3 separate regions of the Homo sapiens genome follow, and all the other regions are linked to region 1. The links come from fine-mapping of genetic effects on gene expression. A gene starts in region 1. Each other region holds a variant in brackets. All regions are shown on one strand. Distances are from middle to middle.

Region 1 (6,545 bases):
AAAAGCTTTCATAAGATTTCATTTTATGCCTATATCATGATTTATCAGTCCTTTACTAAAGAATATTTGTATTTGAAATATATCTTATTATAAACAATGCTGAAATAAACAAGGTTGTAGATACATACCATTTCTCCTGTGTGTTGTAAGATAAACTCTTTTTTTTTTTTTGAGACAGAGTCGCGGTGCGTTGCCCAGGCTGGAGTGCAGTGTCACAATCTCGGCTCACTGCAAACTTCGCTTTCCAGGTTCAAGGGATTCTCCTGCCTCAGCCTCCCAAGTAGCTGGGATTACAGGCGCCTGCTATCATGTCTGGCTAATTTTTGTATTTTTAGTTGAGACAGGGTTTCACCATGTTGGCCAGGCTGGTCTCCAACTCCTGACCTCAGGTGATCTGCCCGCCTCGGCCTCCCCAAGTGCTGGGATTGCAGGCATGAGTCACCGTGCCACCACGCAGGGCCAAGATAAACTCTTATACGTATAGTTGCAATATTGTTAGGTATCCTGACCTTCCCCCTAGGGAGGTCATTATAATTTACATTTACATTTTCATTGTGACTGCTAGTCTACACTTTTACCAACACTGTGATTATCAAACTTTCTAATCTTTGACAATCTGATAAGTGAAAAAATGGTTTCTCAATACAGTTGCAATTTGCATTTTCTTATGGAGGAAAAAAAATTGAGCCAACTTTTTTTTTTTTTTTTAGAATAAAGAGCCACAAAGTTATGTGAGTTATTATTTTATCCTTAATATTGCTCCTGGAGTCTGTAGCAGGTCAGCATCAGAGTTCAGAGATCAGGAACATGGCAACATGCCCAGAACCAAGATGAAAAGAAAAGCCAATAGGCCCCATTTCATGAATATTTGCCTTGAGGAGTCCCTGAAGATGTCCCTAGAAGTTAACTTCTGTTTTTATGTGGAGACAATTAGAAGCTAAGTTTCAGATTCCCCAATGCCTGCGTAAGTAGCTCTAATTACTTAGCAGAGCATTGTATGTTTCCCCCCTTCAAACCACCTGACACAAAAATGAAGTAAAACAGGTTCTATATTTATAGATATAACTAAGCCACACAATAGGATTGTGGGGTTTAGACCAAATCATCTAGGTCACATCAGGGTTATAAAGATTAAATGATATGTTTCACACAAGAACTATTCTGCTTAGGGATGGAGGCTTGTTGCTAATTAGCATAATTGCCTCGTGACTTGCGGAAACTATGTCAGCGTTTTGTTTTGTTTTTGTGTGCTTTTTCAGAGGGAGACTCATCTGGTGGTGTTAAATACTATATCTATTTAAAATTAATCACATGCCTTTCCTAACAACACGGATCATGCTAGTTGCATCTATCTTTACAACAGGGATTTCTGAAGCAAATGAGAGGTGTCATTATGTAATGGAATTAAAAGAGAAGATTAGGAGTTAGGCTGGCTGGGTTTGCACTTGCCCTCACTGGCTGTGTGACCTTGCGCTAGTCACTTGACCTTTCTGAGCTTCAATTCCTCATTTGAATAATGGAGATAATCTGACCTATATACCCCTGGGTTTTGTAGTCAGGAAATAATGGATCATTGTACATATGAAAAGTCTTTACAACTATCAATGGCAAGACATCTGTCAGTTATTCTAATATTCATGGTATAGAAAACTGTGAAATACAGAGTCCTTACGTCTATTCTCCAAAAAAGTTCACTTCTCTTTAAAAGCTTTTAGCAAACCACAATCCAGGTAATTAAAAAGGAAATATTAAAATTTTGTTCTCAGGTTGTCTGACATTTCACGGTTCAGCAATGTGACATCTCTCACAGGCAGAATAGCATCTTCGGACAAGTTTTCTATTAAAAATATGCTTTATAGAAGAAAATATTTTACGGACCTAGAAGACAGCTGTCGATGAAATTTGCTCAGTTTAGCAAACAGCAAGGACTGTGTTTGTGTTTAGAGAAAAGTAGGTCGAGCCTAGTTTATCTCCCTGGGGTTCTAGACTCCTTTCCACGTTGTATCTCAAGCTCTAATAGCTGGAAAGCTACTTTCTTTAACCTTTAATACACACTTGCTAGTAAACTTGCTAGAAGCATGAAGATAATACAGACTGCGAATCAGCCCTTCTAAGAGACAATCACGACTCCTTCCTTGCAAGCTTCCGCCCTGATAATTCTGCAACCTTCCCACCTTCTATACGCCCCGCGGTGCGAGGCCCCTCGGCCTGCAGGTGGCCAGAGGCAAGCAGGAGTCAGATCCCCCACCTACCGCGGCCCGGCCTGGGCCCTAGCGCTGGGTGCGGCGGAGCCCCGGGCTCCTGCGGGGACGAGCGTGGTCCCGGGACGCGCGGTGCAGCCAGGTGCGCCGGCGGCAGTGGCAGCCGCTGAGCGCCGCGTCGCACGTGGCAACAGGTGCAGCGCTGTCCCGGGCTGGCGCCGGGGGGCGTGGGGCGCGTCCGCACTTAGTCCGGGAGCGCGCGGAGCGTCGGGATTGGGACCCGAGAGCGGGAGCGGAGAGCGGGAGCGCCCGAGCGGAGTCCAGCGCCCCGAGGTACGGCCTCGCACGTCATTCAGGTTCCCCGAGGGCCGTCCCCTGGGACGGCGGCTGGCCTTGGTCTCCCGCAGCGAGCCGCTGGAGTGGAGCCTTCGGAAGGAGCCGCCCCGGGTTGGGGCGGGAGGCCCGAGTTCGGCTATTTACAAGTTTCCCGAACTCCCCGCCCTGCTCCACCCCCTGGCGGCCCCGGAGGCGGGGAGGCGGGGAGGCCGGGGCTCCGGGTCCCGCCTGGTAGCCGCCGCAGGCGTGGGGTGGTGCCGCGCCGCGCGCCCCCAGGTGCAGACGCCGCCCCCGAGACCTCCGGGGCGGGTTCTCGGCGACCCCGCCAGTGGTGCAAAGGGCGCCAGCCCTCCCCGCCTCTGCGTCTTTGCTCCCGGAGCGCTTGAAGGAGCTGCGGGTAAGTGCGCGCTGGAATCTGTTCCCGCTGCCCGGCGGCCGGGGTGGGGAGGGGACAGGCGAGCGCGCCGCCCAGGGTGACGGGACCGGTCCTCGGGGAGGGGAGGGGGCGTTCCAGGGGCCTGGGGGCCGAAGCTGAGGGCTAAAGGGGGCGGCAGCGCCGGCGGAGCGGAGGCGGGTCTCACGTGGGCCAGCGCAGAGCCTGCGGAAGGGACGGATGCGGATCTCGTCGCTGTCACCTTGAAAGTGACCGAGGGGCTTGACTGTGGACTCCTTACGCCGCCCACCCGGGCCCGGCGGTCCCAGCCTTCTCGCAGGGCCCCTTCTCAGCAGAAGCAAGCGGGGCCGAGAAAGCGGGTGGAATAGGGTTGCTGCAGGTCCCAAAGACCCCTCGTGGCGCCTCGCTACTTTCTGCAGCTTGTTTGCACTTTTTCACGCTCTAGAAAAATCTCATCTTAATTAAGGTGACCTTATTGACTACTCTATAGTGCTTAGTGGACTTAGGTGTTCACTGAGGAACGTTTTTGTTCTTTTTTGAAGACGTACTCCTTTCTACCAAGTTGTTTGTTGATTTTTGACTTGGAGTAATTTGGGACTAGGAAGGAAGAGGTTAATTCATTTAGCCTGCGTAGTTACACATACTCTGTTAAATACTGTTTGTTTGAAGTAGTCAGTGTTCTAAGAAAGGAAATCCAGTGTGTTTTGTTTGTTTCAATGAAACCAAAGTCTTAGGCAAAACGGTGCGTGGAAGCTTTCAAGTTTTGCCAGGTGCAGGTGATCGAAAGTCAATCATCACTAAATCACAGCGCTGGGGCTGGAGGGTGGGAGTAGGGGTGTTACCAGTGAATTTCAGGAGGAAGGGAGGCAATGCAGGAGGGAGGGGATTAAAAAAGAGAGTCATTGCTTCCTGGGAACCAGTGACCTCTTTAAGGAGGGTATATACAAGATAACAGTGCATGGACAACTTTAAAAGGAATTGCATAAACGGAATTGCAATTCTGTAGACAGTTTGCTTTTTCAGGGATGGTTAGGGCAGGAAATGATACACAACTTAAAATGGTGATGTCCTGTTAGTACAGTGCTTTACAGTGTAGAAAGTGCTGTTACAGATTTTTTTTTTTTCATAGGCAATATATTCCATTAGGAAAGCTATACAAAGAAAAGATTAGAACTACATGCTTATCCTTAAAACCAAAGCTAAAAAACCTTAGAAGTGGAATTTAGTTTAAAATAATATGTAGTTATTTATGTAACTTGCACCACGTTTTTTCACCTGTTCTTTTTAAAATCAGGTTTATGAAGAGAAAATAATTCTTGGTAAATCTGCTTGGTAGAAAATCATGCTTGGAACAAGACCTTTTAATTATGTCAATAAGTCAAGGTTACATTTTGGAGTATAATAGGATTATAAGATTCTAGATAATATCTTATATTTTTTGGAAACTAACCTGCAGTTATTACACTCAAGCATTTAAAAAGCCTGTTACTTAATAGCCCTGTTCTGTTAACCCTGTTTGTTTTGATTTCAAAAGTAATCCGTGCTTGCTGTATAAAAATAGGTAGATTGAGAAAAGTGAGTTAAGCAATTTCAGCAAAGATAATCACAGTTAATATTTAAGAAAATACTTGTTAATATATAGAAAAATTTTTTATAGTTATATAGTTTATCTAAATATACTATTGCGTGGAGGTTTTTTCCTGATTAATGTATCATGAAAAATTTTCCATGTCATGAAATCTTCAGAAATCTTAGTGGCTACTTAATATTACATTACATAGATGTATCAAACTGGTTTTCATTTATTTCCACTTACTAAATATACTTTTGCAACAAATACGTTTTTAAAACTTTATGTGCAGGGTTAATATCCTTAGTGCCCTTGAAATACAGTTGATGGTTGGAAGATCTCCTCATACATATTGACCATTTGCTTTCCAAAAAATGTTTAACCAAATTATGTTCCCACCAGCTCTCTGTGAGAATACTGGTGTTACCGTATTCTTGTCAACATGTAGAATCATCCTTAAAGGGAAAAAAAAAAAATTCTTCCCAGGTTTATAGGTGAACAGTGCTTTCTCTATATTTAAACTTCAATTTCTTTGATTACAGATGATTTGAACACCAAAGAAATCTAGTTGTTTTCCATTTTGAAATTTGATGTAGTGCCAGATTTTTCTCCTGGGATATTAGTATTTTTCCATTAATTCATAAGAGCCTTTTATGGATTGATAGTAAATCTTTGCCATTCATATTGCAGATACTTTTCCCATTTTATCTTTGCTTTATATATTTACAGTAGTTTTGACATACACAAATTTCTTTAATGTTGATAAATCTGTTGACTTTCTCAAAACAGAATTTTTAACACTTCTAAATCGTAGCTTCAGAACTATATGTGACTGTGGTAGAAGATTTAAAAAAAATTTTCCAGCCGGGTGCGGTGGCTCACGCCTCTAATCCCAGCACTTTGGGAAGCCAAGGCGGGCGGATCAGGAGGTCAGGGGTTCGAGACCAGCCTGGGCAACATGGTGAAACCCCGTCTCTACTAAAGATACAAAAAATTAGTCAATTGTGTTGGCATGGATCTGTAATCTCAGCTACTTGGGACGCTGAGGCAGGAGAAGCGCTTGAACCCGGGAGGTGGAGGTTGCAGTGAGCCGAGATCACTCCAGTGCACTCCAGCCTGGGCAACAGGGCAAAACTCCATCTTAAAAAAAAAAAATTCCCCAAATTCTAAATTAGAATCTTTTCAAATTCATTGCAAGAACTTCCATATCTTGGGTTAGAGACTGTTGCAAAACTAATTGCATTTGTTGATGAGAAGCCACTGGGCCTGGTATATACTATTAGGAACAACATCCTTTGAAATCAGAGCAGAAAGTTTTAAATCCCTAAGACTGAATGTTTTTCAGATCTGTTATTCTGTGATTATACAAAGTAGGCTCACACTCCATTTATTGTCAGTAATCTATTTGTAGTATCATTTTGCCAGATTCTTCTTTTTATAGTCATTATTGTGGTTTCATACGGACTTGTTGATGTCCAGACAAATGTACTGCATACGTAGTTAAAAAATTTCCTGGATTAATTTCCAATACTGCTACTCAGCAAAGTATTTATTTGGGGGGGCGGGGGAACACGTCTTCCTGATATCTCAAAGTTGGGTTCTTTCTCTGTGTTGTGAAAGCTTGAATATACCCTGAAAGTCCTCACTAAAGGAAGTGTGTTCTCCATGAGAGCCTGAGTCCCTTTTATTCCCCAAGCTTAGAGCGTAAGAGTAAGCGATAGGACCATATTTGAGCCATAAGGATGAAATTGGAGTTCAGGATCTGCGTGCTTAGGGGCACTTAAAAATGGCCTCAGACTTTCTCTGGAAGAAGGCAGGCCCCGGAGGGAGGTGACCACTTAGCAGCGGATACAGTGGTGACTGTGGCCTCCTGAGAAGGAGGATGAGCGATCCCACCCACAGGAAATGAAGGACTAGATGGGATGGTATGAACTCAGCTAGCTTGAAATCTGGCCCCGAAAAGCCTACTTTGACCAGGGAGACTTTATACCTGGTTTTGGATGGTCCAGTATAACCAGGAGTTGAATTTGACTTGTAATTTCTT
Region 2 (8,421 bases), 99 kb after region 1:
GACTCTAAAAAAAATCTTGGCTTACTGCTGATAAGGAAGATGTCACACATACCACAGAATACTATTATTACCTTGGTTCTACCATACACTAAAGCCACTGGCATACCAGAGGCATCAGAGCTGTATTTATCCAGTACCCTGATTGGTTTACACAAGATCATCACTCTCAGGTGCCAGAGTGTCTGCCTTGGAAGGTAGAAAATGCACTGGTCCTTCCGCAGTTACTTAGTAAAGACATCACAGGAGAACAGGGCGGCTTTCTTGCCTTCTTTTGCCAAGTGCTGGGAAGTGGTTGCAAGTTGCAAACCTGCTGATGAGGTGATGCCGAGGCTGCCAGGGTTTCTTCTGGTGAGAGTAGAGAGAAGGCTGTTTTTTCACTGTTGTTTTATGATTAACATAACTTTCCCCCTATACTTAAAACACAGATGCTCTTTTCATATGGGATACATTTTTGTTTCAAATTGGTGTTGGGGGTTGTGAGGAGTGGATCATTTAGTAAATCTTCTTGAGACAGTGACTACCTTTTTAGCAGGAGCTAGATCTTTTTCACATATATACAAAGTATTTCAGATAAATTAGTTTTAAACACACAAAGTAATTAAAACACTAAGAATATAGACTTAAGTAGAAAAGATCTTTCCAGGAACACTAGTATAATAGAAACGATTAATAATTAGGACAACAAAAGCTTTAAAAAACCTTAGAAACAGGCTGTGCATGGTGGCTCACGCCTGTAATCCCAACACTTTGGGGGGCCAAGACAGGTGGATTGCTTGAGGCCAGGAGTTCAAGACCAGCTTGGGCAACGTACTGAGACCCCATCTCTACCAAAAATACAAAAAAATTAGCTGCACGTGGTTGTGCACACTTGTAGTCCCAGCACTCATGAGGCTGAGGCAGAAGAATCGTTGAACCCAGGAGGCAGAGGTTGCAGTGAGCTGAGATTGCACCACCGCACTCCAGCCTGGGTGACAGAGCAAGACTCCGTCTCAAAAAAAATAAAAAGAATAAAAATCATTAGAAACAGTATTTATAAGCAAAGAACAAACTGAGGTTATATTAGCACATACTCTGTGTAGAGCTCTGTCAAATCAGCAAGATAAAGACAACTCTATAATAGAAGCTAAATGGACATACCACCCAAAGAGATCTACAGATTCAGTGCAATCCCTATCAAAATCCCAGTGTCATTTTTTTAAAGAAATAGAAAAAACAATCCCAAAAGTCATATAGAATGACAGAGGACTGCAAATAGCCAAAACAATCTTGACAAAGAACAAAGCTGGAGGCATCACAGTTCCTGATTTTAAAGTATATTACAACACACAGTAATTAAAAGAGTATGGTACTGGCACAAATATAGAAACATAGACCGATGGAATAAAATAGTCTAGAAATAAATCCGTGCATATACGGTTAGCTAATCTTCAGCAAGTGTGCCAAGAATACACAATAGGGAAAGGATAGTCTTTTTGTAGATAGTACTGGGAAAACTGGACATCCACAAGCAAAATAATGAAATTGGACCCTTATCTCACACAGTACACAAAAATCAACTCGAGATGGATTAAAGACTTAAATATAAGATCTGAAACTATAAAACACCTCAAACAAAACATGGGGCAAAACTTCATGTCATTTTTCTTGGTATGACACCAAAAGCCCAGGTAACAAAAGCAAAAATAGACAGGTTGGAGTACATCAGATTAAAAATCTGCAGAGCAAAGCAGTCATTTAATAGCATGAAAAGGCAGCCTATGAGATAGGAGAAAACATTTGCAAACCATACGTCTGATAAGGCGTTATTTACCAAAATAATTGAAATCAGGATGTTGAAGAGATACTTGCATTCCCATGGTCTGTCGCCCCCAATATTTCAATGTAGGTTATTTTTGTTTCCTGTAAGTGTTGGCCGGTCTGAGAAATAAAGAGAAAGAGTACAAAGAGAGGAATTTTACAGCTGGGCCTCCAGGGGTGACATCATATTGGTAGGTCCGTGATGTCCACCTAAGCCGCGAAACCAGCAAGATTTTATTAGGGATTTGAAAAGGGGAGAGGGTGTATGAACAGGGAGTACGTCACAAAGATCACATGCCTCAAAGGGAAAAAGGCAGAGCAAAGATTACATGCTTCTGAGGAAACAGGACCAGAGCAAAATCAGAAACTCCTGATAAGGGTCTATGTTCAGCAGTGCACGTATTGTCTTGATAAATATCTTTACAGAAAACAGGATTTGAGAGCAGAGAACCGGTCTGACCTCAAATTTACCAGGGTTGGTGTTTCCCAATCCTAGTAAGCCTGAGGGTACTGCAGGAGACTAGGAGACCAGGGCGTATCTCTCTCAGTCCTTTTTTTTTTTTTTTTGAGACAGAGTCTGGCTCTGTCACCCAGGCTGCGGTGCAGTGGCGCGATCTCGGCTCACTGCAAGCTCTGCCTCCCAGGTTCACGCCATTCTCCTGCCTGGGACTACTAACTGGGACTACAGGTGCGCACCACCACGCTAGGCAAAGTTTTTACATTTCTAGTAGAGACGGGGTTTCACCATGTTAACCAGGATGGTCTCGATCTCCTGACCTCGTGATCTGCCCGCCACAGCCTCCCAAAGTGCTGCGATCACAGGCGTGAGCCACCGCACCCGGCCAAGCTATCTCCACCGCATAGGACAGACACTCCCAGAGCGGCCGTTTATAGACCTACCCCCAGGAATGCAATTCTTTTCCTAGGGTCTTAATATTATATTCCTTGCTAGGAAAAGAATTTAACGATATCTCTCCTACTCGCACGTCCATTTATAGGCTCTCTGCAAGAAGAAAAATATGGCTGTATTCTGCCCGACCGCGCAGGCAGTCAGACCTTATGGTTGTCTTCCCTTGTTCCCTAAAATCACTGTTATTGTGTTCATTTTCAAGGTGCACTGATTTCATATTGTTCAAATAAACATTTTGCAATCAGATTGTTCAGTTAATGCAATCATCACAGGGTCCTGAGGTGACGTACATCCTCAGCTTACAAAGATAACAGGATTAAGAGATTAAAGTAGGACAGGCGTAAGAAATTATAAGAGTATTTTTAGAGAAGTGATAAATGTCCATGAAATCGTCACAATTTATGTTTCCTCTGCCGTGGCTCCAGCCGGTCCCTCCATTCGGGGTCCCTGACTCCCTGCAACAATGGTCATTGCCACATTATGATAGCCAGGATGTGGGAACAACCTAAATGTGTCCATAGGATAAAGCAAATATGGCATATATGTGCACTGGAGTATTATGCAGCCTTTAAAAAGAAGAAAGTCCTGCCATATGCTGTGATACAGATAAAGCTGGAGGACACTATGCTAAGTGAAATAAACCAGTCATGGGGCAAATACTGTATGATTCCACTTATAGGAGGCATCTAACATAGTCAAAGTCAGAAACAGAGTAGAGTGGTGGTTGCCAGGGAATGGGAACTTGATGTTCAATGGTACAAGGTTTGTTATGCAAGGGCGAAAAGGTTTTCGAGATGTTTGTTACAGCATTGTGCCTACAGTTAACAATATTATATTGTTCTTTTAAAATTTTGTTGAGAAGGTAGATCTCATTAAGTGTTCTTGCCACAATTAAAAAAACTAAACAAAAAGAAAGGGAAAAATAAGTGGATGGACAGAAAAGAAATATATGAAGGACTAAGGAATATATGAAAAATGTTTACCAAATATGAGTTAAAATAATGTGCTCTCAGTTCTTGCTTATTTCTTAATGTTAGCACCTGGTACTGGCGAAGAATAAGAAACAGCACTCATATGTACAGCTCCTTGGTAAATTACAGCAGCTGTAGCAGAGAGCAAACACCTTCCACCCGGGAATTCTGTTTTTCAGAATTGGTCCTAGGAAAGTAATTTATTTACTTATTGACTGCTTTTCAGAATTGTTTACAATGGGGGAAAATTGGAAACAACCTATATACCTTACAGGAATTAAGTT[C/T]GTTGACATTTTAAAGACATTTTTGAAGCCATTAAAATAACAATATAAATGCTTATTTAATCCCATGGAAAGATAAGTGTGAAATTTTTAAGTTTAATAAGTTTATTAAGCTTATGTTAAGTTTAAAAACAAATTGGAGAGCAGTCTGATGTGTAAGTAATTTAAATTGAAAAGAAAATTCTGGCCGGGTGCGGTGGCTCACGCTTGTAATCCCAGCACTTTGGGAGGCCAAAGCAGGTGGATCACAAGGTCAGGAGATTGAGACCATCCTGGCTAACACGGTGAAACCCTGTCTCTACTAAAAATACAAAAAAAATTAGTCAGGCGTGGTGGCGGGCGCCTGTAGTCCCAGCTACTCAGGAGGCTGAGGCAGGAGAATCACTTGAACCCGAGAGGTGGAGCTTGCAGTGAGCCGAGATCACGCCACTGCACTCCAGCCTTGGCGACAGACCGAGGTTCCGTCTCAAAAAAAAAATTCTACGATGAACATATGAGGTTTTGTTTTTTAAAAACAAACATTGTACATGAATTAAAAGCATTACTGCTTTTAATTTAAACTCTTATTTTGCTTATTGCAAAATAAAAGGCAATGTCACTGTTCTTTGAGAGCTTATCATCTTACAGGTGGGTGGAAGTTGATTGTTTTTCTAATTGCTTTGTGTTAATTTTTTGATAATTACAATTTATCTTCGTACTGAGGAAGAGGATAGTGTGGAAAAATTGGGCCTTAAGTTGAAGTTTCTACAACTGGAATAGAGAATTGAACTTACTACATTAAAGACTGTGAGGAGTAAAATGAAGAAAATGTTGCAATTAATGCTGTGTTAGGGAAAGTAAGGAGATAAATATAAAGATTAATATTCCATATTAGGCTAAGGAAGATTGGTTGGATAGAGATGCTTGAATCTCCACACAAGTCACTTGGTTTAAATTTTAATCTTCTTCCTCATTCTTTATGATCATTAACAACAACAAACAATAACAGATAAATTGAAGGCATTTTGTAGCATCTAAGCACCCCATACAGATTATGCTAGATTCTTGTCTAGAATCATGACATCATTGTTTTCTAAATCACTGATTTAAAAAAACACATTTCTATGCAGACCAGTGGAATTTCTGTTTGTTTGAATATACTGTGATATTACAACATACTGACTTATGAAACATTCTGTATCATCCTCTTTTGTTATTTAAGCCTTAGTATAGACTTTACACATCGTTTATTTTTCTTTGTGTCATTATGAAAACTCGGCTCATTTTGTAGGCTTTCTATAAAATTATTCTAACACTTAAACTTTTTAATTTTTTTCTGGCTGCATGATTTTTGAAAAAAAAAATTAGGAAAATACAAAAACATATAATAAAGAAAAAATAGAAATCCTCCCTCTTCTACCTCCCAGAGCATTGGTGACATTCTGGCATGTTTGCTCCAATATACTTAATCGTTTTTGTTTAATGTTGAGATCCTACATTGCATAAAATTTTAAATCATGTTTTTGTTTTCCACTGACATCCTAACACAGGCTCTGCTTCATAAAGACTCATCTTTTTTTTTTTTTTGAGGAGTTTTGCTCTTATTGCCCAGGCTGGAGTGCAATGGCACAATCTCTGCTGATTGCAACCTCCATCTCCCAGATTCAAGCGGTTCTCCTGCCTCAGCTTCCTGAGTAGCTGGGATTACAGGCCCCTGTCACCATGCCCAGCTAATTTTTTGTGTTTTTAGTAGAGACGGGGTTTCACCATGTTGGCCAGGCTGGTCTTGAACTTCTGACCTCAGGTGATCCCACCTGCCTTGGCCTCCCAAAGTGCTGAGATTACAGGCATGTAATCTCACCACCGCGCCCGGCCCATAAAGACTCATAGCTAACTTTTACAACTACAAACTGTTGTACTTTAGGCACTAAAATTTCCTTATTTTTTCCTCTACTGTCCTTGGTGATGCCTATCTTTTCCTCTTAAATTAAGACTTTTAAAAATAACAAAGATGCTTTTTTTAGGTACTTCTCACATTCGTTCAATTTCAGAAAATATGGAGTTCCTAACTGGTAACAGATGATCAAATAATCAAAGAATTTTTTGGAACCAATTTTTTATCTTGGCTCCCCCCAGAGGCATATATAGTATAAAAATAGTTGTGACCTGAAAGTAATTGCTTATCCAGTTATTTAAATGAGCAAACGTAAAGTGTGTAAGAGAGTGCTTGGAGCAGTAGATTGTAAGCGATGGCCATTTGTTTATGGACTGCCAAGGCAGCTCCCTTGCTTTGGTGCACTTGTGCTGCACGGCCACCAGGAGGCAGACTATGTTTGGGAAAGAACTGAATTTAGTTTATTCCTGCAGCTTCTTGCTCTGCTGTTAAGAGATATCATTAACAATGTTTATTTTCAATATGTGTGGTTATAGCTTAATGTAATTCAAGTAAAAATGTTAATGAATCTGATTAATCGATGATTAGATGGTAATTTCTTCTTTTAGGGAGTCTAAAGAACTTCCCTTTTAACAAGGATAATTTAAGGCTGGGCGTGGTGGCTCACCCCTGTAATCCCAGCACTTGGGAGGCCGAGGTGTGTGGATCACCTGAGGTCAGGAGTTCGAGACGAGCCTGGCCAACATGGTGAAAACTCATCTCTACTAAAAATACAAAAATTAGCCAGGCATGGTGGCGGGCACCTGTAATCCCATCTACGGAGGCTGAGGCAGGAGAATCACTTGAACCCGGGAGGCAGAGATTGCAGTGAGCAGAGACTGCGCCATTACACTCCAGCCTGGGCAACAAGAGTGAAACTCCATCTCAAAAAACAAACAAAAACAAACAAAAAAGGATAATTTAGAATTTGCTGTTACTGAAGAAACAACAAACACAACCAAAAGAAAGAAAAACCACCTCCTACTATATGGAGTGGTGGCATGTCTGTTTTTAATCATGGCAAAATTTGACTCTGTTCTTCTGTTTGTTTTTAATGCTGATTGGTTTCTTGGTTTTTACAAGGTTTTGGGAGGTAGAGGAAAAGGTTCTGGTATATTTTTAGTATGTAGAATCTGGAAGGAAAAGGTGTTCAGGTTTTTTAATAATAAACTGGGATGAAGTAAAAGGCAACACCTAGAAGCAGCTGGCCTTGATTTTAATTCCTTGATCATTTAGCTTCAGTTGCTGTGGTGCAATGTATGTAGCAGGTTTTTCGTCAGTGTATGAACTAGGTGTATCTTTCTCACAGGAACCCTGGACAGGTTATTGGGTCTGTCTCTCTTGCTGACAACCTCTAAAATGGCAAGTTGGGGGCTTGAGTGAAGAGGGAGGGGGCTTGAGGGAAGAGAACTTATTTAAATTTTCTCTTCCTCCCTCTCTCTTCCCTGCTTCATACCCTACTCTATAGAATTTCTAAAAGAACTGCTTCCTGCTAGTTTTAATAGCACTTAATAGTGTTATTTATGGTAACAATTCTGCATTTATTTCTGAGTCTTATTTTCTAGGAAATCTTGGAAACAGGCATAGGACATTTTTAAAACATTGTTTTGTTTATAACATTTTTAAAAATGTTAAGAGCTCAGGCTATTCGTGGTTTAATGGAATTAGCTTAAGTGGGCATATTGTTGTTGTTAATTCTTATAACCATATCTTTGTTTTTCAAGTTCTTTTGGTTTTGCTATCATGTTTTAACATACTTTTACAAGCCACTCTACTGAAATAAAAATTAGTAGATAACTGGCAAAAGATATTCATAACTGTGCCCTCCTCACACTCCTAGTCTTGAAAGACCACTATAAGAGACCACATGATGTTCTATAAATGCAATTACTCATGCAATAAATGTAGTCTTTAGAATATGCCTATCTGATGGACTATTCTTCTGGAACTCTGATATTACATCTGATAGAGAAACCGTATTAATCTTTTACTGTTGATTATTTGTGAGGTCCTCAGCATGTGGGAATTAAAGTTGAACTTTAACCTTTTGACAATCTGTCATTAATATATTAGAATAGAAATTTTCTTAAATATTGTAGTTGAGAACATTTATTGCCTGAAGTCTTTAAAAAAAAAACTTTTCCAAAATACCAGGTTTAAATGTAGTTTACATGTAAAATATCTAGAGAAAAAATGCTCATGTTATCATTGTGAATATAAGGAGTGAAAAATGTTAAAATCAGGACACAGTTTACTTTCAGGAAATCCTAATTTTTTTCTAATTATGAAAGAAACATTAGGCACTTGAAGTAGTTAATTTCCCCTAGCGATCTTTCAAGTGGTTACAGGATCTGTGACATTATTGGTTGTTCTGTAAAGCTCCTGAGACCACCCACTTTCTCCTCCCCTTTACCATCTCGGATGAAAACCATAACAACTCCACAAGCATGCACAGTGTGATGTGGTTCAGAGGCAGCTTCTAGACCTGCAGGAGGGAGATTGTATTCAGAGGAAGAGCATCATTTTGGCAACATCTGAAAGTGAAAACGG
Region 3 (8,421 bases), 150 kb after region 1:
TATTCAAAGAAACTTCAAAGCTATTTATTCTAGAAGATTCTTAGGAAGAGTCAGTGATTTCAAAAGAAATCTAGACTTACATGCAGGGATATGCAGGGTATAAACTTTATTGATGGCTCAGGAAACAGGTTTGAAAGAGCTTCCGGTACACAAAGGGGATTCTTCTACTGCAGCCGCTTTTGAAAAGCTAAGGCAGAGTCAGAGTGAGGAACACAGAAGCATCCAACCGCTTCTGTCACGTAAGCATGCTGAGGCTGCGGAAAAAGAGTGCGTCTGACTGTAGTCCGGGAGAAAGGGATGGGCTGGCAGAGGAGGAGGAGAAAATGCAGAGGGTACAAGTCTTGTAAATGCTCTAATTTTAAAACTGACGGTAAGTTATGCCATTTCCCTCTAACAAAAATGAGGTAGGATTCGCTATTTTCAAGGTAAAAAAAAAAAAAAAAATCCTGCGTACAAGGGTAACACTGTATAAAATGTATGAAATTTAAAAATTGATACTTAGTATTTGCATGTACTTATGGGGTACGTGTGATGTGTTGAGACAATCATAGACTGTGTAATGCCCAAGTCAGGGTATTTAGGGTATCCGTCATCATTATCATTTCTTTGTGTTTGGAACATTTTATATCTTCTCTTGTAGCTATTTTGAAGTACGCAATATATTATTATTAACTATAGTCACCCTACTATGTTCTTGAACACTAGAACCTATTCCTTCTGTCTAACTGTATGTTTGTATGCATTAACCAACCTCTCCTCATCCCACCCCACCCCACCTCCCACCATACACACGCATACCTCTCCTAGCCTCAGGGAACTATCTAAAGAACCTAGAATTAAAGATGTATTAGTCCCTGCCCTGACCCTTTCCAGCTCTGGAAGCTTTCCTGATCTTTCCTGAGTAGGGCGCTTAACCCGTGGAACACGTTTCCTCTTTCTGTGTGAAGTAAGGGGTTTGGATTAAGTAATCCCCGAGGCCCCTTCCTGGATTCTCCCTAAGGATTGGTCCAGAGCAGAAACCAATGCCCCGGAAGATAAGCTTGATGACCACACCACCGACTCTTACCTAAGACGTTGCTTCATTAAACATATCTGATCAGTGGACCATATGCTGTTCTTCTGTAGCATAAATTTTGAATGGTTTAGTTGAATTTCCGAATAAAGCAAGGAGTGGGTGGGCGGTGGTGGGAAATCCACACTGATGGTGTGCTCTCAGAGGACGCCTCCCCTGATGTAGCATTTATTTTGGAGAGTTTTGTGTTTTTGAGACAGGATCTTGTTCTGCCACCAGGTTAGAATGCAGTGGTGCATTCACAGTTCACTGCAGCCTTGACCTCCTGGCTCAGTTGATCCTCCCGCCTCAGCCTCCTGAGTAGCTGGGACTGTAGGCATATGCCACTATGCCTGGCAAACTTGTAATTTTTGGAGAGAAATTTAAATAGGCTGTGTACTCCATGCCGTGTAGGTACTGGGGTGTCACAATAGAAAATGATAGTATTATGTCTGCCCTAGAAGTATGGCCCAGTCAACGTAGCCCCATCATAACAAAAATCCAAACACTCAGGACATTGTTATCCCTGTTGTTTTCCAGAGAGCCGTATAATGCACTGCTTTTTCTTTCCTGATCAGTTTGTTTGGTAGGAGAGAACTGTTGTTCCCTGTTCTCCCAGAAAATGCCAATAACTGACTCACAGATTGCCTCATCTCCAGCCAAGATTCTGTTTTGTATGTAAGCAAAGTTTTTCTCTTGATACAATAACATGTTTGATGCAACTCACATTTTTGCATATTAAGTTACTGATAAATAAGTGAAATGTTTGCTTTCAGTATTAGGACCAGTCTTCGACATTAAGGTGCTCTTGTTTTTCACCTCTTTCTTTGAAATTGCTCTAAGATGATGAACATCTGTCGCTTGCTACTTGTCTAATGTCTCAATCTAATCAAAGATTCTTTCTGTTAAGAATTTGAACTATGTGGAATAAGAGCAGTATCTTGCTGTGTCCTTTCCAGAAAAATCCTCAGATCATGTATCTAGAACAGGAGTTAGAAAGCCTGAAAGCTGTGTTAGAGATCAAGAATGAGAAACTGCATCAACAGGACATCAAGTTAATGAAAATGGAGAAACTGGTATGTTTCCTTCAGAATGAAAGAGGATCTTACAAATGGGGTAATATGTGTGAAATTGAGCCCTGCATTTTAGAACTGTGGAGTTGGGTTAACTGCTCCTAAAGATATTTAGAAATTATACAAAAGATAAAGTTCACATTTTCTTTCCAAGTTTGTTCCATATTTATTCATTGCTGCCTCCTAGAATGTTTTCTTTTTCAAGGAACATGTAAAACAGCACCCAGTCCTTGGAAAAACTACAAACAAATCAGGCTTATATTTCAGTGGTATTTTGGATCTTCACCTGCATAAGAAAAATGTTTAAATATCTATGTAAAATCAGTACTTTAATATACCAGCCACCCTGGACAGGTTTCTTAGATCCAAAACAGTTGGATACGTTTAATAGAAATGAATAGAAATGAATTTAATAGAAATGAATAGCAATACTATTTATCAAAATTCTTCATCTTGCTTCTTGTGAATTAGCATGTGATAAAAGAATCGTGGGCTGGGCGCAGTGGCTCATTCCTCTAATGCCAGCAGTTTAGGGAGGTTGAGATGGGTGGGTCACTTGAGGTCAGGAGTTCGAGACCAGCCTGGCCAACATGGTGAAACCCTGTCTCTACTAAAAATATAAAACTTAGCCGGGTGTGGTGGTGGGTGCCTGTAATCCCAAGTACTGGGAAGGTGGAGGTTCCATTGAGGTGAGATGGCACCAGTGCATTCCAGCCTGGGCGACATAGCAAGACTCCATCTCAAAAAAAAAATTGTGCTATAATAAGATTAATCCATTTGGACAAGTAGCAGGTGTTACCAAAAATATGAATTAACATTCACTTTGCAGTGTCTAGAACAGAGAACGATGTTAGTGTGAGTGGCATGTTCAGTGTTCAGCGTCAGTCTTGGCCCGGCCCTGAAATACAGCTGCTGCCAGCCAGGACTCTAACCAAGTTGGCAGAGTTTGGCAAGGCAGCTTAAGTGATCCCCGCCCTCGCGGTGCCTTGCTGTTGACTGTCCAGCTGCCGCATGCTACTGGCCTCTTCTCCCCACAGTGATGAGTGACTCAGGCTTCTACAAGTGCCTCATTCAAACCCAAACCAGCCCTGGACAGTAGGGGACATGGGGGACCTCTCTGCTGCTTGGTTTGTGTTGGTTTGGCGTTTGGTTTTCTTCTGGAGACTATGACTTCTGTTGAGGGAGATAACGGCCAAGCCCCTGTGTGGATATACCAGCATTTTGAATTATCAGGAAATTTTTGTAAAGGAAGGAAAGGAACTCATGGTTGTTAATGGGCCAACCTAGTATACATACCAGTTCCTGCCAAAGGTCGTCCTGTTCGACTGAGTCTGGTATCTTCTAATCTGGTAGTCAGGGATGACTCAGATGATCCTGTTAATAGGACTGCTCCATATGCCATTCATGCATCAAAACTTTCAAAAAATCATGTGCAATAAATCAGACTTTGCTGTAAACTTACCAACACATTTAATTTCTGATGATCTACTATTTGTTTCTTGCCATGCCCCAGAGGTATCCTGATAATATCCTTCAGCCTTGCATTGTGTATGTGTGCAAGAATGAGTTGATACAATGAGAGGGAGACCCACTGTTCCCTTCATATTTGTAAATTACAGGCCTCTGATGAAATTAAGAGACTTAGAAGCACAGGAAGTTTTCTAAGAAAGACAGCTTTCCCATGAAACCGGCACTGCCCATAATCAGCTCTGTGACATTATTAGGACTAGTTTCCCTAGGATGAGATATTTAAAGGACAATACCTCCCAATCTCAAATTCCAGGTTTTTTTCCACGTTGTTTTATCTGGGAATCCTTCATAATTACTGAACGTAGACTCCTTTTCTGGAAAGTGATTTAA[C/T]CTGAACAGGTTGTCCTGAGCTGCTTCTGGATAACAGGATGTCTTAAGAACAATCAGGTTCCAAACTAAGCAACATACTCAAAGCGCGTTAGTCCTGCTACAAGGACAAGGACTTAGACTTAATCCTGACGGAGCTATAATATTGCCTCTTCATAAAGCCTTACCTTTAGAAAGTGAGTGGGGGATGGAATCAGGTCTTCATCATGTTAAGTGATTAAATGTCCTCAGGCATCTTATCCTTTCATCTCTCCGCTGATCAGTTTGTTTGCCTTGAAAGTTCAGCCTGCACAGGGCAGCAAGAGAACAGACCTATCTATCTTCAGCTGACCTGAGGAGACTCGTGGCATGTTACTTCTTTGATGGCATGCTCTAAGAGCTCTATCGAATTGAAGCTTTGTATGGCCACTCAGACGCAAATGCTGAAAACTTACCATGAAACTGAGTTCAAGTCCATAGTAAACGTTGCCAGGGACTGTGAATTGCTGGCCTGTGAGTTTTCATCAGATGTGGGAATCTTTTTTTTTTTTTTTCCAGCAAAATTCACCGTAAGGAGATAGATAAGCTTTGATAAGTGTGGGCAGTGTGTCTGCAGGGTTTATTTCACATTGAAACAGAAAGAGGCACCAATTCTTAGAGAATTCCAAAACAACATGACCTGGAACAAATCTGTTACCCACTCGTATCAATATTTAAGTGTCCTGGCATACATGTTTTAAAAATACCCAGCCGCTCTGTTTTGCTGTTTTAAAATCTTTTTCAGTATGTTTGTTAGTGTATAAATATTTTAATATGGAATTGCATTTTCCTTAATTAAATCTCCAAAGTGTGCTTGTGTCGTGAGGTGCCTTAAGAAATGAGGGGTTTTTTTTTTAATATTGTATAAATGTTGGAATTCTTGTTTATGCCAAGGTGGACAACAACACAGCATTGGTTGACAAATTGAAGCGTTTCCAGCAGGAGAATGAAGAATTGAAAGCTCGGATGGACAAGCACATGGCAATCTCAAGGTAAAAATAAAACAGTGCTGTTTCTCCCGAGCTCCCCGCTCCCTTGGACATCCAGTGTACTTTCTGGACACGCTCTACCCCTGCACCTCCTGGAAATATGATGGAAGCAGATGGTTAAAAGGGCATTGATTTCTCTGTGGAAAATATGATTGTAGTAGTTCATGCTTTTACCAAAGCGGCCTGAAAACTGTACACTGAGACCCAGGCCAGCAAGCCTGCTCCCACGGCCTCTGGCTGCCTCTGAGAATGCTTTCAGACAAAGAGCAACACAAAACCAAATAGAAAACAGCCTGCAACATAAGGTAGTCATAAAACATGTCGAATATTTGCAAAAGTGGCTCTCAGCCTACTATGAAATTGCCCAAAAAGTACAGTTATTATTATATATTTTTTTGAGATGAGGTCTCACTCTTCTGCCCAGGCTGGAGTACAGTGGTGTGATCTTAGCTTACTGCAGCCTCCACCTCCTAGGCTCGAGCAGTCCTCCCACCTCAGCCTCCTGAGTAGCTGGGACTACAGGCACATGTCACCATGCGTGACTAATTTTTGTATTTTTAATAGAGACAGAGTTTCGCCATGTTGCCCAAGTTGATCTTGAACTCCTGGCCTCAAGTTATCCACCCACCTTGGCCTCCCAAGGTGCCAGGATTATGAGCTTGAGCCACCACGCCCGGCCTGTGTTTGGGTTTTCTTAGCCAGCCAAATACCTGTGACCTTGTGCAGGATTCTGTTTTATCCCAAAGGAATAATTTTGGACTTTAAAGTTTCAAACGCTAAGAAAAATTTTTCAAGTTTTTTTTTTTTTTACATAGATCTCATGGTTTCTGGCCTTTTTCTTCAAGGCAGCTTTCCACGGAGCAGGCTGTTCTGCAAGAGTCGCTGGAGAAGGAGTCGAAAGTCAACAAGCGACTCTCTATGGAAAACGAGGAGCTTCTGTGGAAACTGCACAATGGGGACCTGTGTAGCCCCAAGAGATCCCCCACATCCTCCGCCATCCCTTTGCAGTCACCAAGGAATTCGGGCTCCTTCCCTAGCCCCAGCATTTCACCCAGATGACACCTCCCCAAAGTCCACAGACTCTCTGAAAGCATTTTGATGCAGGTCTGCAGGACTGACCCCAAGGAGGAACGTGGGCACAAGAGGTATATCAGCACACGTGTGATCACCGTAGGGTAACTGGAGCGTCACCACCGGCGGAATCGCAGCTTCTGAGACTGGAACTCTGGAGGAAGACTTTTGCCTCCGTCCAAAAGATTCCTCCAAAAAAAGATTTAAAAAAAGATTTCGGCATCGACACGGACGTTGTTGCACAAAGCACTTAAAGAACGAGAGCATCTTGTTCATTGCCTTTTTCACCTAAGCATAGGGGGAAAAACTCTCAGGGCCCTATTAAGATTTATAACCTTTGTAATGTTCTTCACCACAGACACCTTCTTGTGAGTTTTCAGTCTGACTGTGGGGGTGGGGGGTGTGAATGAAATGGATGTCACAGAGTGTCATGTGTCTGATGCAGCCTCCTCTGCTGTGTATTAAATGTCAAAATCTGAATATATCTGGATATGTACTAATCAAATAATAATCAATCAATCAGCATATACATTTCAGCCAAAGCCATAGAAGAAAAAGCAATAGTTGCTTGAATTATGATCATCTACCACCAACTCTGCTCAGCCCTGTAACAGGGTAGGGAGAGGGTATAACAGGAAGAGCTTTGACTTGTCCCTGTCTATACATTCTCTGTATCTTTTGGGGGTAACTTCTTGGCAGTTTTTCAGTGTTCAGCCATGTCAGTTGAAACTAGATTTTTCTGTAGATTTTTTACTTACCCATGTGAGCCTAACACTATCCTGTAATTCATTTTCTCAGGCTATGTGTAAATGTAGAACCCTAATTTTTCTATAAAAAAACAAACTAACTAACTAACTGTGTAAAGAAAGAAAAAGGGAAGTACCAATGGGTTTTTCCACCTTATTTTTACCTTTGATCTACCCTTGCAGATTTAACCTGTCTTCTTCCCTCCCATTATTCTCATTTTCCTTTTACCTTTCTCCACCATCCAGAGCCACAAAAGCAAACCTTCTACCTCCTACCTACTTTTCTCTGGGACAAGGATAAAGGAATATGATTTTCCAGAGCCCCAGAGCCAGCTCATCTTCCAGGTGCTGAAACCACTTTCCAAATAAACTAAAGCCTGGATTTGATATTACAAATTTTGGGAAATCTTAGAATAAAGAACGAGAACAAGGAAGTCATTGGCTAGTATAATTAAGAAAGGTAGGATTCAGTGCTTACCGATGATGCAGTACTTGATAGAAGAAAACAGTCTGGGAGGATAGCGCTCATTTTTCAGTTACCCTTTAAGGAGTCCCTTTGTCTTTGGGAAAGTAGCAGAATGGTCCGCTTCTTTCCCATGAGTGGAAAATGTGGCTTGTCCAACTCTCCTCCAGGTTGCATTTCAGTTTCTTTCCAAAACTTATTACCTCCCCTAATCCTGAGACTTTGGAAAAGGTGGAAGGAAGAACTGTTGCTTTATCTCCCCCTCCCTGCATGTGTCAACATTGTGATGTCAGTATTTACTAATCTACATTCAGTGGCTGTACAAATAACAGCTGTAGTAAGAAGAGATTCAGGATGCTAGAGGTGAATATTTGGGTCATTTACATGTACACTACATAGCAAGTTGATACTCATGTTGCATGTTCTTTTAAATTAGTGATTTTGTGTCTTAAGTCTTTAACTTCCAATACTTCATCATGTATGTAACCTTCCATGTTTGCTTCTGATAAATGGAAATGTAGGTTCACTGCCACTTCATGAGATATCTCTGCTCACGCTTCCAAGTTGTTCTCAATGACATTAGCCAAAGTTGGGTTTGCCATTCATCCCCTAGGCATGGTAAATCTTGTGTTGTTCCCTGCTGTCCTCCGTATTACGTGACCGGCAAATAAATCTCATAGCAGTTAATATAAAACATCTTTGGAGGATGGGAGAGAACAGGAGGGAAGATGGGAAACAAAATAGAGAATTCTTAAGATTTTGTTTAAACCAAATGTTTCATGTAGAATGCAAAATGTTGGCACGTCAAAAATATGAATGTGTAGACAACTGTAGTTGTGCTCAGTTTGTAGTGATGGGAAGTGTATTTTACTCTGATCAAATAAATAATGCTGGAATACTCAAGAATTGCATCCTCTGACCTACTTCATTCTTCAAATTCTTCATTTTTACAGCCCTGTGACAGCACAGTAAAGGTCGTATCTCCTCTTAGTTTATATTTCCCAGGAATTTCCACTGCAACCGCAGAGTTGGTCATGGGCTCACAGAGCTAGAGTGAGAGGTAAGCTCTTCTTCTCTAAATTCAAAGCTATCTATGTTTGACAAATAAATTTTGGCTGGCTGTAACAATTTCTGCTGTATAAGAAAATTGGAC

Which allele goes with the higher level. Positions count from the first base shown, and alleles are read on the strand shown. Sizes are in standard deviations (SD) of each study's normalised expression. Not every link is listed here.
For the expression in subcutaneous fat of the gene that starts at base 2,901 in region 1, C is the low allele of the variant in region 3 and T is the other (small effect, 0.38 SD a copy in GTEx).

What was found.
Region 2: its variant is fine-mapped to the expression of MTUS1 in whole blood (INTERVAL, PIP 0.92).
Region 3: its variant is fine-mapped to the expression of MTUS1 in subcutaneous fat (GTEx, PIP 0.99). The same link has a PIP of 0.9 or more in visceral fat.

What each region holds. Positions count from the first base shown.
Region 1 is chr8:17,797,450-17,803,994 of GRCh38, reverse strand. MTUS1 (microtubule associated scaffold protein 1) reads left to right here and starts at 2,901. Exons shown (of 15, transcript NM_001363059.2): 1 at 2,901-2,934. It overlaps MTUS1-DT (MTUS1 divergent transcript), which reads right to left and starts at 2,653. Exons shown (of 3, transcript NR_186403.1): 1 at 2,253-2,653. RefSeq lists silencers at 2,298-2,487, 2,528-2,587, 2,668-2,787.
Region 2 is chr8:17,697,572-17,705,992 of GRCh38, reverse strand. The region is part of intron 6 of MTUS1 (microtubule associated scaffold protein 1); the gene reads left to right. Among named protein-coding and RNA genes, the nearest start is that of MIR548V, 20 kb to the right of the region's middle. The variant C/T (reference allele first, on the strand shown) is at 3,963.
Region 3 is chr8:17,643,552-17,651,972 of GRCh38, reverse strand. MTUS1 (microtubule associated scaffold protein 1) reads left to right here. Exons shown (of 15, transcript NM_001363059.2): 13 at 2,011-2,127; 14 at 4,894-4,991; 15 at 5,834-8,171. The coding sequence ends at 6,047. It overlaps LOC124901891 (a long non-coding RNA gene), which reads right to left and starts at 4,894. Exons shown (of 2, transcript XR_007060834.1): 1 at 3,421-4,894; 2 at 2,016-2,410. The variant C/T (reference allele first, on the strand shown) is at 3,985.